Regions from separate parts of the Homo sapiens genome. Here region 2 is linked to region 1. The links come from fine-mapping of genetic effects on gene expression. Tissue or cell type: whole blood. Region 1 holds a variant in brackets; the other region holds the start of a gene. All regions are shown on one strand. Distances are from middle to middle. Region 1 overlaps INPP4B (inositol polyphosphate-4-phosphatase type II B). Region 2 holds the start of INPP4B (inositol polyphosphate-4-phosphatase type II B).

Region 1 (8,377 bases):
AATAATGACACCAGCATATTCGATGGATTAAGGCACACTCTGATTCTAAAACAGATCATTTCCTCTGTGCCCTTTTCCATGTGTCTGATAAGACAGAGAGTGTGCCTGGTCCTACTAGCATTTATACCATCCTCAAGGGGCCAGAAAGCCCCAGGAGAACTTTCCAAGAGATCCTCATGCAACAACCCACCTTGTTCCATAACTGTGCCCAGCAGCTCAAGGGAACAATTATAAACAAGGATACCACCCCCAAAGAGTAATAAAATCTAGCTGAGGGGACAAAATATACACAAACATCAGTGCAAGGCACTAACTGACCCAGGCTGTAATTCTGTGGTACAGATACTCCCTTTCCCCACCCCAGCCCTGACATCTGTCTCCTACACAAACTACACCTTCAGTGCTTGCCCAACTTTGTTGCTTACTTCACTGCTTACACCCACTTAAACTGGGTCATCCTGGCATCTGCAGTGCCCACTCAACCCTGCGTCCCTCTGCCTTGCCATCAGCTACTACTTATGTTGTTCTCCAAACATTTCAAAACCAGGCACTACACAGCCATCGACTTCTGATCCTAATTCACCATGTCCTTTACAGCCAGCCAGTAGAGAGGCTCAGTAAGAGGGCAAATTGGATAACACCAAGGCTGTCCAAGAAAAGCAGGTTTATAGTTCCATTCTTTTATTGTAAAATTACTTATTAAATTACTTCCCTTTGCATGTTTTACTTGTTTTTATAACAGTGCTTTCCTCTAGCAAGGAAGTAGATAAAACCACAGTGTGCAGCCCCGCACACTCCACTGTATGTGTTTATTCTTAGAATGGTAAGTCAGAGAGAGTGGAACACTGGCAAGCTTTCACCTGCTTTTAGTTTAAAAGGATGTCAGTTACAGTTTATTATCCCAATGATGCATTTTTAAAAATTCTTACAATCATATTATATACATGTGATGTTGATGTCAATCATAAGCAGCCTAAGTTACATTGTTATTAAAATTACCTGTTGTACAATGCTTCATATTTTCCAGGAAAAGGAGACATTTAAATTATATGGTTTTGGTGAAAACACATCGGTAACTGAACATGGGATGAACAACCTCTATATCATTCTCCCTTTTAATACTGTTAGGCTTTCCCCAACCCACACCAATGCCATCAACCTTGCTCCCAGAAAAGCTACCTAAATTCTCTGAGTTGCCATTCATAAAAACAGAGTCTGGGATCAACTGTGAAAGTGAATTATATACATGAGTGAATAAATCAAAATAATACTCTAACGAAATAGGTAAGCCAAGTTTATTGTTTCTGGCAGTAGGCTTTAACCATGTGATAATGTTCTGTTGATTTTCTCTTAAAAATGTCATCCAATTACATAAAACTGTCAATCAATCTTAATCAAACAAGATTTGGACAATGGATTCTTGCTGGGCTTTTCTATATGATTAAACGATAGGAACTTATTTGCTTTATTACTTTATATGGCCAAAGCATATACTGGAAACCTACAAGAAAAACAGGAGACAAAGGTGAGCTACAAGCAAGGAACTGAAGAAAATGCAGCCATGGAAATTTCCCAATATCATGAGTTATTCAGATTTCCAAGCTGGATCAAGTAGAAATCCTAGAACATGAGGCATGGGTAAAAGTTCTTAAATAGGGCCAAGACATTACAAATCCCTTTCTAGGCCATGACTTACTTAAATCACATTTTGTTCCTGTATTCATATGTAAATAACAATAATAATAAAATCCTTATCAGATAAACTCAGAGTTTTAAAGACTACATTTGAGAATTTCAAATTCCTAGAATACTGAATATTTAACAAAACAAGGGCTATAATTTAAGGTTAGCTTCTTATAATATGAAACATGCTTGAATTTAAAAAGAGTATAATGCAAGAAGACTGGCTGTGAAAATTTTAAAATTCTAATCTGCTTATAAAACACTCAAGCTGAAATAAATCTTGGCTGTAATTAAGATAAGTAACCACAGCTATAGGGCTACTGTTAGCATGAACATGCCCTTACCAGTAAGAGAAAACAATTAAGTTACAGATCTTACAAGTTATAAACAATTTTTTTCTGAAACAAATCCATCATTTTTATTGATTTGAAATCAATAGAGTTTTCATAAATTATTTCTCATAGAAAAAAAGACATACGAGATTAATTTTTAAATCTTAGCACTGAAAGGGTAGGTCACCATTTCTCCTTCCAGTGTTATTCTTGTCATAACTATTTGAGATTTCAATATCCACAGATATGATCTTGCCTTTTGTCTTAAATGATTGTCTCCACTTTATTAGGACTATTCATTTTCATTACCAGACCCTAGATCTTGTCACTACCAATATCTGGACTTTCTGCAGATCTCAATCACAAGCATCTCATTTCCTAATTTTTCTAACTCCCATTCTGTGTCCAACAATCTTTAAGCTGCATCAGGGTCTACTGAGGAATCTGGGTTTTGGCTAAAAACCTACTGTGATCTTTCAGGCCTAACCCCAGGCAGTTACAAAGACTTTTCCTGGCAGACCTGAACTACCTTCCTCATACCAGACTTGGTGTGCAGCTAGTGCATTGCTGAAAGGAGTTGCAGTCACAGACTCAAGCCCCCAGGGCTGGCCATGCTCTTATGCATATCCGTGTTCTTAGCTCAGCAAGAAGGCCTTCAGGAACCTCTGCTAAGAACTTATCATTTGGAGGAGCTGAAGGGGAACCTTGAAGACACTTTTCTCCACTCTAGCTCAATAATTTTTTACTCCTACCCCTTCCTTTTCACCCTTTTCCCTGGGCCCCTAGTATATAAAACTAAAGGAGACTTTTGTTCAAGACTCCCTCAGCAGTAAAGCAATTCCCCACATGTATTGATTCACTTGACCCTCAGATATCCAGTACTGTTTCACGGGTAAAATGGACAGAGGTGGTGCATGGGTGGGGTGGAAGTGGGAAGTGGTAGAGACAGTGGTCAGAACTTTCTCTGGTTTAGCTTCTTGCTTATACTATCACAGTGAGTGATTAAATGTTAGAGCACTATTTCATTGTGGTTTATTGTCATAATCAGCTATTCTGAAGCATGGTAGCACAGCACAGCTCTCTCCAGCTCAGCTTGGCCCCTGACATCTACAATCCATTGTACAACCACCTTTTCAATATACCTTCCCTCCTCATGTCCTCATTTCCATTCTTATCCAGCTTAAATGTCATGGTTGTTTATTGCATTCAGCCATATCTTTATACCTCAAACTACCATGACTCTCTTGTGCTTCATTATGCTCACTTGGGAAAATCATGAGCTTGGTAATCACAGAGCTTGGTAAATCACAGAGCTCCACCTACTCTGTCCTTTTACCTGTGTGGTTGAATGTGTCTGGAGAAAATCCCATAACCATACTGGCCAGCGTTGCTTTATATCCATGATCTTTATCTTCAATGGCAAATATATTATACATCCCTGATCCATTCACTCATGCATATACCTCAAATTCTATTAAATACTTTTGTCTCCTATTAAACATCTGACACCCCCTCCATCTTTATGTCTCTCTGACACTGTGCTTCCTATTTCAGTAAGAAAATATAAGCAACTGGAAGATATGCAAGCTCCCATCAAAAGGTATGCAATATCTAGACCCTTTTAACAACCTCATCTGCACTTGTATATCTTGCCTCTTCTCCATCATTGTGAGTCAACTCTATATGCATTTGTCTAAAACTAACTCCAATTTATACTAAATCTCAACTCCTCTTGCCTACTCAAGGGCATCATTTTAGCATTTTTTTTCTACAGTTTTCCCCTCTCCACCAGTTCTTTTTCATCAGCATACAAACAATCTATTACTTCTCCCATCTTAAAAGAACAAAACAAAAAAATTTTATTCAGCAACCACCCTCTTTCTCTCTCTCCCTGTATAGTAAAGCATCTTACTAGATTTGCCTATACTCATGGTTTTCAAATTTTCTTCTCCAATCCTTTCTTGAAACCATTCCAATCAAGCTTTGGGACTCATCACTTTATCAAAAGTCTGATGATGCCAAGTAGTATCTTCTAAAACCGCAACAGGGAGAAAAAAAACCTAGTGTCACAATAAATGAGGAATTTGAACAATACATGGATATGGGTAATAATAAACTTTTTATTATTTACAATGAAGGCACCAAATTTAACTTAAATAATGAGAGCACTAGTTGGACACATTTTATGGCTTCTCTTTTCCATAAATTCACAGTACTGAGTTGAATATGGTTTTTATAATTCTTTTTTGTGCTGTATCTTGTATTCCTTCAACTCAATCTATAGGAATTGAAGATGAAACCAGTCAATCAGATTCCTATAGAATTGTACTTATTTCCATCGTAGGATAGAGAATTACTTCTTTTCTTCAAAGTATCTGTTCTAAATTCTATTAACCCCTTCATTCCATCTTTTGGGAAAGAAAAGAGCAATCTTATTTAAGAAAACAGCTAGTCATTGTACACTTGCCCAATTTTTAACTCATTTTTGCCCTGTCTTATTTGCATGAAATTTTTTTTTTATTTTTTGCAGCAGGT[G/A]CATTTTCCTATCTCAGATTATAATCTTTTCTTAGAAGTAGGTCACATGACCTTTCTGTGAAATTATGTGTGGTTTTGTGTTTGTGCATCAGTGAAATGAATTTATATTTTTATACCAGCTTTCAGTATAAAAACTATCTGGGCCAAGGATTATTAGATAATATTATACCTAAAATATTATAAAATATTGATACCCAGATGATTTAAACATTTATTATCTCAGAACACATTATGGTTAAGATCATGTATCAGTCAGGGCTATAGATCAAAAACAAAAGAAACAGGCTCTGGCTACCTTAATCCATAAGAAAATTTATTGGAAAGATAACAGCATTAATGAAAGGCTAGAAGGCCAGTCTTGGGGAACTGGTGGGAGGAATGGAGCCCCAAGAAAGTAGGAATCACAGAAAAGTTTATATGGCAAGAGCAAACTGGTCTGCTTGCCACTCCTGGAGCAGCCTCTACTTGAAAGTTTCAGAAAAGTGCAGGTGGTAAACAAGGTATGTCATAATTACCACTGACTGTTCCAAAGAGGAGAGGATATCCCACCCATTTGGTCTCCATACTGGTTAGTAGGTACTCCCTCCTGCCAGCCTCTCCACAGTAGGAGATGCCCCAAAACAGAGGGTGGAAATGATGTATTATAGCCAGGAGAATGAGGAAGGTCAACTCTAAGGCTCCTTAAAGGAATGCCACATGGATCCAATCAGGTCAAGGGCAGCCACACTCTAACTGGTGCAATCAGGCTGGCATGATCATCAGATACATGCTGAAAATGAAAAATAATAACAAGCAGCACCGAGCAGCCAAAAAAAAAAAAAAGGTTTCATGGAAAGAAAAAGGGATTTGTCTTGGTAACAGTTTGGGCTTGTTTCTATTTCACCAAATACATATTAATATATATGAAATTGTAGAATTTTTTGTTAAACACTAGTTTGAAAGACCATTTCTTCTACTAGATACCTTCCTGAACCATTGCTTATAATCAAGCTCAGGAGTAAGGAGTTAGTACCTCTACCTTGATGTGCAGAGGACACAGTCGACTATGGAGAGCCTGAAAATCTGGTACTGTAGGTGATAAACCCTTCTAGACATCTATCAAATAGACACTTGGGTAGGTTGACTACACAGGTGAACTACAGAAGTTTCTCAAAATTGAATGAACACAATAAATATTTGTATTTACTCAAATATTCTAGATATTTTGATGTCTACTATACTATATATACTAGTACTAAAAATGTACTCACATTTATTACATATTATGAGAGTTCAACACAAAATGAACTAGGTGAAATCAGACTACTGGAAAGAGTTAGGCTCCCACTCACACTGAAGCTTAGCCAAGTCAAGCCTAAGTTAGGAGCCTGAGCAATCTGTTAGCAGTCTTACCAATACAAGGTTTTCCTGGCTTGTAACCCCACACACAGACCCTGTCATCTTTTCTGTGCTTTCATGGCTTTGTCCTCTTTAAGCTTTAGTAGTTTCTTTAAAAAAAAAAAAATCATTCTTTCAAGTTCAAATTGTTTGTTACAATTGGACACAAAAGACTCCATATAGGCACTGGGTAAAGTTGATTTCTTGTGTGTGGTTCACAGAATTCTTGTTGATGAGACCCTCTTAAAAATCATCTACTCTTCTTTATTCCAGTCTTTAGCATATTCCAGAAAGCCTAATTACTTATTGCAAAAACATAAAAATAGAAATCTCTTCACTAGATTATGATTTAAAGCATGAACTTCGAGGCCAGGCGCGGTGGCTCACGCCTGTACTCCCAGCAATTTGGGAGGCCAAGGCGGGCAGATAACCTGAGGTTGGGAGTTCGAGACCAGCTTGACCAACAATGGAGAAACCCCATCTCTACTAAAATTGAAATACAAAATTAGCTGGGCGTGGTGGTGCATGCCTGTAATCCCAGCTACTCGGGAGGCTGAGGCAGGAGAATCACTTGAACCTGGGAGGCGGAGGTTGCGGTGAGCCGAGATCACGCCATTGCACTCCAGCCTGAGCAACAAAATTAAAACTCCGTCTCAAAAAAAAAAAAAAAAAAAAAAAAGAACTTTGAATTTACTTTGGGTTCACAAACTATAACATTTTTAAATAAAGATTGATTTCTGCAAAAAAAAATTTCCCTAATTTGGTTGCATAGCATTAGTGATTTTGCTGCTGACTACATCTGAAGTTAGATAACATTGAAGATGTTTTTATCAACAAGTGCTAATATCTATCATGTTGAAGAAAAACTAGTTTATCTAGAGCACTTGCTCTGGAATTAATAAGATGTGAGTTTAAGCTTGGCTCAGAAACTTAGTAGCCATGTTATTTTGTGCAAGTTACTTAACTTCTATCAGCTCGATTTCCTCACCTGCCAAAGGAAGACAATATGTAATGATTAAAAGGAAGAGATTGTGAAAAAACTTGGTACAGAACCTGTTACTCTCTCTCCTGCCCTCTTTGTGAGTCTTTCAAGGCCATTTTTATCCATTAGTTAATGTAAATGAAACTCTCACAATGTCCTCAACTTGTTGTATTGGCCCTTCCAAACACAGCCACTTTCTCACAAATAACAAGTATGTATTTGAAATCTCAGAATTTTAAATTAATAAATAGTTTTCCATTTTTAAAAAGATAAATACCTTACAATAATGATAATACATTCTGCAGCAAGTTAGATTCAATGGTTAGGTCACAATACTATTATGGCAGAAGTACTATTAAAGGAACATTATGAGGGGCAGAGATGACAATGCCAGCCTTAAACAGATTGTTAAGAAGGCTAGAGAGAACAAGAGCTTCAGGAGAATAAAAGAAAAATGTGCTCCCAAATTTAGTGATGAGTCCAGGGAGTCCCATTAAACAAATTAGCAGGTTTGGAACATAGGGTTTGATGTTTATGGGTATATAAATAAAAAGCTTGTTTTCTCTGGGGCAGCTTAATTTACTACAGCATGTCTCATCGTTTCTGAAAGAATGAATGTTGCAATTATTAGTACCCCAAAGAATTAGTTCATCCTGGGATAAAAATGGGCTCCTCTCTGAGGGCAGAATGCATTGGTACCAAACTCTGGAGCATAAAGAAGACCAGATGCATTCCAGTAGGTAAAGGGGGCTAACTCAGGAAACAAGTGAACTAGCAGCACCAGACTAGTAACTCAGAAGAGTGGCTGATTTCTGGAGCTCCACCATTTGGTGCACCCCAGTATGAGAACATTACCTTCAAAGTGTGGAAGGAGATGGTGTATCCAAAATCTGGCACTTAACTAGCCAGGAGCAAGGACTGACCTTAGAAGCAAAATGGGGTGGTACCTCCCCAAAACCAATGAGAGTGTGTCGGTAGGAATATCTATTAGAAGAAGCTGTGTTTCACAGAGCAGAGGACTCAAGGCCTCACCAGCAACACAGGATGCAACGGGATGGCAAGATAAGGAGGCCGGAATGAACAAACCACAGGAACTTGTTCCAGAACATGTATGAAGAAAACTTTTAAAAACAAAACAAAACAAGCTGGGGCATGATGGTGAGGTGGTAGAGGGGAGACACAGAGTGAGACTGATAAATAACGTATTGGAAACATTTTGAGATAGCTAATTTTCAGCAACAAATCAGTAAAGAACTTCTGCCACAAGAATTTACTATAAAAATTAATTGCATTGAGTTATATAATGGTGAGTACAATGACATATGAATTACATATAATTTGGTAAAACTACCCCTTGAGACATCAACTTTATTTAAATCCTGTCTAAACAAGACATGTGTGGCCTCTATGACTTCACAGAATGAATTCCTTCATTATGCAGGATTCCCTTAACTTCTTGCCACAAAAC
Region 2 (8,718 bases), 150 kb after region 1:
ATATCATATATATCAAAATATATATAAATAATGATATATATAAATATATATGATTATTATATATTTATATATAATAATATATATACTATATATAATATACTGGATATATATAAATATACATATATAAATTATATATAATGTAGTCCATAAAATTTCCTAAACATTTTAAATGTTTCTTTTAATCTACAAGGTAGTGAAAATATATTTAAAAAAATAAACTAACACAGTTTGATTCAAGTGACCATTGTGCCTGAGACTGAAAGAGTAATTAAAATTTTTGCACATATCTTAATGTCTTTTCTAGGTATATACTGATCTTTTCTAGGTATATACTGCTCTAAAGTTTTAGAACACAAAGACTACATGTATCTTGCACAACAAAATTCAATCATAGCATCATCACTTGGATTCATCTAAAAATAAATGTTTAAACTAAAATTATTTAATAATCTCATTTCTGAAGCCTAAATATTATAGTATATATGATTAGAGTATGCTCTAAAGAGCTCTCTAATCAAAGGTTTCTAGCTCAACATTTTTTAAAAGTATTAACAAAGTGGCCTATGGAAAAGATTCCTTAAGGCTTTAGAAAGATATACAGGACATGTTGAAAAACTAAGGTACATAATACAGAAGAGACTCACACAGCTTTCACCTGAACATTTAACTTGAGATTATTTAAAACAGGGCATTTCTATCTATTAAAATCCCCATAGTTGTGAAAGACAAAAATTTATTTTGTACAGATTAGGTATGATATTTGTATATCTAATATTAGTACTACTGGGCATCACTCAGTATGAAATAAGAAAATGTAATAGATATTCAGTAAGCATTTTACTCACTAATTATGATTCCATAATTTCTTAACTTTTTGTTCTCAGATGTCAAATACTTACCTAGAAACTGCCACTCATTTGGTTGCTATGAGTTTTAAGATCAGTTAGCAGGTTTTTTTTCTGTCTTTCAGAGAATTGTCATCTTGGGTTCTCCCTCAAGGTAGTGAAAGTTAACTTTGTTACCCATCTGGGGATTTATAGTACTTATACTAGAAGATGCTCCAAGGTTTCAGAAAGGAATTAATTACTTTCAATTTGCACAATTTAGAACAAATATCTGGCTTTTCCCTAAGCTTAATGATTTTCCATTTCACACAACTAAAATATAATAGCATTATTTTATAATCAAGTTTAACTGATGGTCTATGATAGTAGAGCGATTTAGTATTTTGACAAAAATCTTATGAGACATGAAGTCATTCAATTTGCAGCCCCAAACTGAAGCTCAAACACAACATTTTAAAAGTATTTTCTGCCTATACCTTTGACTGCATGCTACTTTAAATAGAGGGACAAGACTAAATGGTCTATCTGGTTGTTCTTACACTTTATAAAGAGTCAAAAGCAAATTTGAGTTATAAATATGCACATCATAGTGATCATTATTTTATCACAAATAAATATTGATTTGCTTAATCAAAGAGAATACTCTCCTAGAATAAGAGCAGTATTTCAATCTGCAAACATGTTTCTTAATGTCACTGAGCATTTAGCCTATCTTCACACACACATTTCATAACCTTTCAAGGACAATCTTCTACATCACATTTTAAGGAAATACACTGAAAAAGCAATCCATTTTGCAATAGCATTTTACATTACTACAAATTCACGAGGTTCAACCTTCAATGCCCATGTACCTTTCACAAAACTATTGATCATTTCCTATCAATGCTTTACAGGATTATATCACAAAGGAACACATAATGCATGTATGTGCATCAATGCGTAAAGGAGAGGATGCATTTCTGTGCATAGTATGTGAACTGACAATGCCCACTTGCCCAGTCCTTGCTTTACTCAACTTCTTACACATCATCAGCCAGCTGCCCTGTTGATGATTCCTTGCACCTTATGCGCTGCTTTATCATTGAGTCAGATTACTACCATTTCTGGTCCAGAACTCATTAAGAAAAGTCCTTTTTCAAGCAAGGTCTTTGAAATGTAGTTGTACACCTATAAAAGAACTATCTGGAGCTCATCTTGAGAGAGAGAAGATGAATTTATCCTCTGTCTTTAGGCTTTTACTTACAGAGCCACACCTTTATAAACAAGTTCTGTCTGTCATACTGACAGGAAGGAGATATGCAAAATGTAACATCTGGAGTCATAAAATATAATGACCTCAAATAACATTCCAGAAAGAGAAAGGAAAACTAGTTCTGGTTAGGGAGAAGATAAAAGAGGAAAAGGAGTAAATTTACATCCTTAAAACAAGAGTAATAGAAAACCCTACCGGGTTTTTCCAGTAAGTTTTGTGCAGCAGCAGCAACAACCTAATCAATATGTGCTTCCTCACCCTCTTGTCCCCAAAGAGAAACTGCTGGGCCCCTCTCCACCGACTCCCCAGGAGCAGAAACTACTGCCCCCAAGGAAGGGAGAATTCAGAAGCGTGGGGAGGGGGAAAAACAGGTATATGTGGTTCTAGCATCCTCATCTTCATATCAGCTACCAGCCTGAAACTACATTCAGGAACCAGGCTCCCAGACATTCCCCGGCCCTGGGCCCTGCCTGAGCGCCAGAGAGCTTGAGGAGCCTGCAGCATAGTTCTCAGACCCGAAACAATGACCTCCCCCGTCCAAACCCAGGCACTCTTGCGCCAAGGCCCTAACCTCTCAGCGAGACCTCTTTGGGGAAGGACAAGAGATGCTGCCTGATGGCCGAGAGAAGACATGCCAGGCTTCTCTGCCAGAATGAGTTGTTGAGGGTGGGATGAAGGTGGTCAAGGAGATGGGCTCTTTATTTTTAAAACAAAAAACAAGGCAACCGGGACCACCAACATCAGTCACCCTCACTCCCCACCACTGCCTCTATTCCTTAAGGACTTCTTCCCAGGCCGGCGGCGGCGGCGGCGGCGGCGGCGGCAGCTTGCGATCATCAGGATTGGAAGTGAGAGCGAGTGCCCGGGCCAACCTCAGCGTCTCTCAGGGACAGCGCAGGTGGGCGCAGCCTTGGAAGGTCAGCGAGGCCAGAGCTCAGAGTTCCACGGGGGCCCGGAGAGTGTGCGTGTGTGAGTGAGAATGCGAAAACGCGCGCGCGCCGGGCAGAGGGGCGCTCGGCGAGAGGGTAGGCGCGGTGACAGGGGTACCCCAGCAGCCGAGGAGAGACAGCCCACCCCACCCTTTAAGCTAAAGAGCTGGAGGGGTGATGGAGGCTGCAAGACGGAGAAACTTGATGCAAAACAGACAGGCTCCCCCCTCCAAGACGTGCCGCCACGCTCTCAGACACGCTCCCTCGCCTCCCGGATTACCCACCATCAACCACCCCACCCTGCAAAATTCCCCCACCGAGCCCTAGGATCCCAGGCGGGTAATTACCTCTCCCGGAGGCGGAGTGGGGGGCGGCAGCAGCAGCAGACACTTTTAGCCTGACTTTCCTGCGTTCGCTTGCGAGCGTGTGAGCGTGTGCGCGCCCAGGAGGAGCTGTAACCTGCTATTTATAGACCGAAGCCTCAGTACCCGGGGCTGAGAACCCGGAGGAAACTAGCAGGCGGCGGCGACGGCGCAGGGCGCCGGCCGCGGCTTCGCGAGGCTCCAGCAGCTCCCCCAGCCTCTGGCTTCGGCCGCGCTCCCTGCTCGCTCCTCGCCTACCAGCCCCGCGCGCGCCCCAGAGAAGTTGTCACCAGCGCGGCTGGCTCTCCGGCTGCTCACACGCCCCCTGGCACAATTGCTACTTTCTTCCACCCCAACCCCCACCCTCCCCGCTCCTCTTCCTCCTCCTCTGCTCTCTCCAAGCGGTCTCCTCCCAATGTCACCAGCGACCGAGTAGAGGCGGCCGTGGCAGCGACAGTCGCGCAACTGGCGCTGCTCGCTTCCCGCTACTGATAGAGCGGAGATGGTGGCCCGGCTGCCCACCCCGAAATTACCACGCTGGCTCCGTGTGCTCACACCCCGTACCCCGACCCCTTTCTGCGGCCCCTCTGCCCGCTGGGTCGCCCACCCAGACTGGGCTGTGGGATCACCGCTACCGCGACGAGGGGGGACCCGAGGCCGCCACGCTGCTGCGGGGGCAGGAGAAACCACAGAGAAAGAACCCGCGGGAGGAAGAAAGCGCCCCAGACCCCGGCCTATGGCAGCGCAGTCCCTAGACCGAGGGTTTTTGGAAGGGGCTTGGGATCCCTGCTGTCACTGCCTGCGTCTAGGCATCCATTCACGCCTGCTGGACCCCAGTCTGCAGCCGCGCTGGGACCCCTGTCTCTTGCCCCTCCTCCCCCTTGCCCCGGGCAGAGGTCGGGCTGAGGAGACCAGCTTAGAGCAGCCCTCGGCCACCCACCGCCAGTTCCCACGTCGCGGCGGGTGACTGAGGCCGAGATGCTCCCAACTAGCGTATGACATGCCTTTGATATCCCGGGTGCGTGGGGACAAATCCGCCCTGAATGTGTTGGGGTATCAGGAAAACGGGGTATGTAAGCAAGCAGTCTGGACGGAGACTAAAACTCCCCCACTTCCTAGCCCCTAACAAGCCCACAGGGGAAAGCACGCACCCTGGTTATTCCGGGCTGTGTAGGGTGTGGGGCAAATGACTCTCCCCATCTGCGCTTTACAGGTGCCACCTGGCGGCTCTCTCGGAAAGGTTTTGATGGAGCCGTTCAAAGGTAAAGGTGCCCAGAGCCAGCCCATCAAGACACCCCAGCCCTTCTCCCTGAGGGCGCTTTAAAATCACATTTTAAGTAAAGCAGTGTACGAATGCTTGTACACAAGTGTTACATTTGCCATGCAAAAAGACTGGAATCTCAAAGTCAGGACAGTGAAATCAATTTGGGTTAAGTCGGGGCTTAACAGTTTCACAAACCAGGAAGCTGTATGTACCCCCAGCTGTCACCCCTGCTGTCACTGCCCGCATCTAGGCATCCTTTCACTCCTCAAACCTTTGACCACCACATTATAAGCCTTGCCAATGAGGACAGGGACTTTGGGTTTGTTTTGTTTTGTTTTGTTTTGTTTTGTTTGGTGGGGGGAGTTGTTTGTTCGTTTCATTTATTTTTTTCATCACTCTGCTCCCAGAGCTTGGGACAATACCTAATATTCTGTAGTTTCAATAAATGTTTATAGAATCAAATAATAAACACTATAGGCCAGAAACTGCTTGGCGCCCCCGAAGCCCTTCCTTTTGCTTCTCTTCAAGCTTTTTCTCCTATGCTCAGCCTCTACCCCAAGTGAGCTGAATGCAGAGAGATAGGAGAGTGAGGAACAAATAATCCCTGTCAAGATGTGGATCAGCTTTGAGAAGCCTTCACACAGTTAGATTTCTCCTCCATGGGGCAGCACTGAACACACCCATCTCCAAGCAATGGGTAAGCCGTGTTCATAGAGATCTGCTGGAAAGATGATACAACTTTCTCACTGGGCAGTTTCTGATTTTTCTCACAATAGAGAGAGATTGAAATAATATCAGGACATTAGGATGTCAGAGCTTTGCTACTAAATTGGAAATATGGTTAACATATCTGTCCTCTAAGTGGAAGAGTGTGTGTGTGTGTGTGTCTGTGCGTGTGTGTGTTTATGAAGACTACAGCAGCAATGCCAGAAATACCAAACCATACCTCCTAAAAGACTGAGTTGTAAAATAAATGCAGTTACTGATTCTATGGAAATGGACGTTTAAAGTGAGATGCTTAGAGGACCCTATTATAATTAAAGTCCAGACATGGACCATGCTGACAAAGTCCTTTTACAGGGCGGCTGAAGAATATGTGACTTACTTGTGTACATCACGTAGGAAGTTTGAATTCTCAGAAAAGAGAGAATATGAATCAGGATGCCATCAGATGCATGTACCACAAGGCATTTTTAAAAATCCATCAATCATCCTGATATTTACCTTTTTTAGTTATTTGGTGGCTTTTTCCTTGAATAAGCCTGGAGGATTCAGATGCTTCCGTGGTTTAATAAACTCATTCAGCATTCACTTTTACAAACCTTGAACTTTTGCTGACTTGTACCCCCAAAACATAACTCCATTTGCCAATGAAGGACAAAATATTTTTCATTTCCTTTTGAAATATCTTTGTAGGGCCAGAAGTCAAAGGTGATTCCCTGTAGTTACCTTGCTGTCTAAAGCAATAAAATCAAGCCAGGATCTACAGGGTTGGTGTCACACTCGCCTTTGCAGTGAAGCAGCCTACACTCTCTCCATAGATTCATTGTTCCTCTAGATTTTTATCTCAGGTGAGATTAATATGACATCATATCTACTTTTATGATCCTTCACTATTCAAAATCTCTTCTAGAATATAGCACCAAGCATCATATAGGTTTTTTAATGCTTACTCAGTTATGTTAACAATAACTTGTAAAGTAAGTCCTTGTTTTCATCTCAATTTTTAAAAACTTAAAAATTACAGAAACTTTGTTATGTATACATTAGCATCATCTCTTGTGTGTATATTGTGTGTGTATGTCTGTGTGTATTTAAATTAAGGGGGATGTTGTTAGAAATAAGAACTAAAGTAAAAAGGATAAATTATTGTAAAGATACTTGGCTGCCCCATGGAACCCCAAAACAAGAATGCAACTGGGCACTAGGAATGACTGGAAACAGACAGGCCATTAGAACTTTCTCTGTCTCTTTTCCCCCACTACATTAACTGTCCCATTCTGTATCTCTCTCCCTCTTTCTCTCTCTCCCCACATACATTGTCTCACTCTCTGCTTCTCTGGTGTGCACTAAATTGCATGGTGGCTAACGACTCTTAAACTTTATAACTTGTGAACCAGTTCCAAATTCTCCAAGTACTGTGATTCTTCCAGCTACCAAACCCCAGCCAACAACCTTGGCCAGGGATGGTAATCAAGTGACATTTTCATACCTACTGTAGTAATTAGGTAGATTATAGTGGGAGGCTGAAGAAGAAGAAAAAGGATGAAAATTCCCAAAATGAGGGAAGGAATACAGGTCATTCCTGACCACTACTATCTCCTATTCCTGGTTGTTTCATCAACATTGACACAAAAGACAAAAGAAAGTAGGAAAAAGAAATATTAAAAAAGCAATAATGTCTATGGTGTATTAATGCATATGCATGTTTGAATATTGAATAAGATGGAATGCCTCTTACTGTTGGTAGTGCTCGAAGATAGCTGTTCCCAGTATAAGTAGCAGTATGATTTTATGATCTCTCGGCATGGGGCTGGGTGAGTATGAGAAAGAAATCAAGTTTTTCACAGACAGTTTACTTTAGCTTCTTTTTTCATGGCAAATTAAATAAGAGATTTTTAAAATAAAACAAATGAGTGTGCTAGAATTTTACATTGATTGAAAATAAATATTCGTGGCTCTTGCGCTTTGCATAGTGGTTATATTTGTAAAATTGTATGTAAATCATATATTTGAAAATGAGTCACATTTCAAATATAATAGGGTGGTGAATCTTAACATTTTTGCAGTCATAAATCCATTGGAGAATTTGAGGAGAGCTGTGGACTCATTTCCCAGAAAAATATGAGCATGCACACACACAGTTACAATGGGATGTTATATGACATATTTATTTGAGACCTGGAACTTAACACTTTATATTGCTTTTGTCTTCCCCCAGTCATTGTTATTTGAACAAATGAAATAAAGACTCCAGATTCTTAAAACCTTCAAAATGCCCGGTATGTACAAGCCAAAAAATGGGTTGGGGTGGGGGACATATGTGAATGCAGAGAACTAGCTCCCTCTTCACCAGCTCCTGCTCCAATGAGTCCTAAATAAGCTGTAGTAGGAAATGAAGACTGAGCTCTTAGAAGGAGGGGAGAGAGTTATAATGTGGGGAATGCTGTATTCGTCCACTAGGGATGCCATAACCTCTTACCAACAGGTTTGGTGGCTTAAACAATAGAAATGTATTTCTCACAGTTCAGGAGGCTGTAAGTCAAAGGCTGAGGAATAGGCAGGTTTGGTTTCTGAGGCCTGTCTCCTTGGCTTGCAAATGTTGCTGTCTCGCTGTGTCCTCAGGTGGTCTTTCCTGTGTGCATTTGCAGCCCTGGTGTCTGTGTGCGTCTAAATTTCCTCCTCTTATAAGGACACCAGTCAGATTGGATTAGGGCCTGCCCTAATGGCCTCTTTTAATCTAATTGTCTTTTAAAGGCCCTATCTCCAAATGCAGTCATATTCTGAGATACTGGGTGCTAAGGCTTCAACATATGAATTTGAGGGGGACAAGATTCAGCCCATAACAAATGTGCACTACAACAAACTCCAGAAAGGGTCTGGGGGTGAAGTTTGGATATAAATTTCTCCCTTCTGTAAAGAGGACCCAAGAGTAAATACTTGTACTGTTTTCCCCTTGGAGTATCAAGAAGGCAAGGGTGTAAAGTGGGAATATAAATGCTAGCATGCCTTATCTAGATCCTAAAGGGCTAATGATCCCTGGGATTTTGTTGCCTAAGTGATGAGGAAGAGGCTGTGGTTCCTTTGGGCTATAGGAGGCCTGGAAGTTAGTCAGGAGTGACAGCCAGCAGGACAGGTAATCACCAAGAGGTCCCCTGGGAGGGCGACCAGATTAAATGCCAAGGAAAGGGCGTGGCCTGTCTATGGAAACATAAAGGTGTGGCTACAATTGCCATGGCAATGACCTCAGAAGAGTCAGTGGCTATGCACTAGAGTAATGCCATCTTCATTCACACCTCTAGAATGGAAGCCAAGTCAGCTCTTCAGAAAATGACAGACATGT

Evidence for each region.
Region 2: it holds the start of INPP4B, and the variant in region 1 is fine-mapped to the expression of INPP4B in whole blood (TOPMed, PIP above 0.99).

The regions. Positions count from the first base shown.
Region 1 is chr4:142,696,149-142,704,525 of GRCh38, forward strand. All of the region lies in intron 2 of INPP4B (inositol polyphosphate-4-phosphatase type II B), which reads right to left. Among named protein-coding and RNA genes, the nearest start is that of INPP4B, 150 kb to the right of the region's middle. The variant G/A (reference allele first, on the strand shown) is at 4,551.
Region 2 is chr4:142,842,833-142,851,550 of GRCh38, forward strand. INPP4B (inositol polyphosphate-4-phosphatase type II B) reads right to left here and starts at 3,469. Exons shown (of 26, transcript NM_001101669.3): 1 at 3,377-3,469. All of the region lies in intron 3 of USP38-DT (USP38 divergent transcript), which reads right to left. It overlaps LOC124900788 (a long non-coding RNA gene), which reads left to right and starts at 8,642. Exons shown (of 2, transcript XR_007058286.1): 1 at 8,642-8,718. RefSeq lists an enhancer at 4,226-4,812.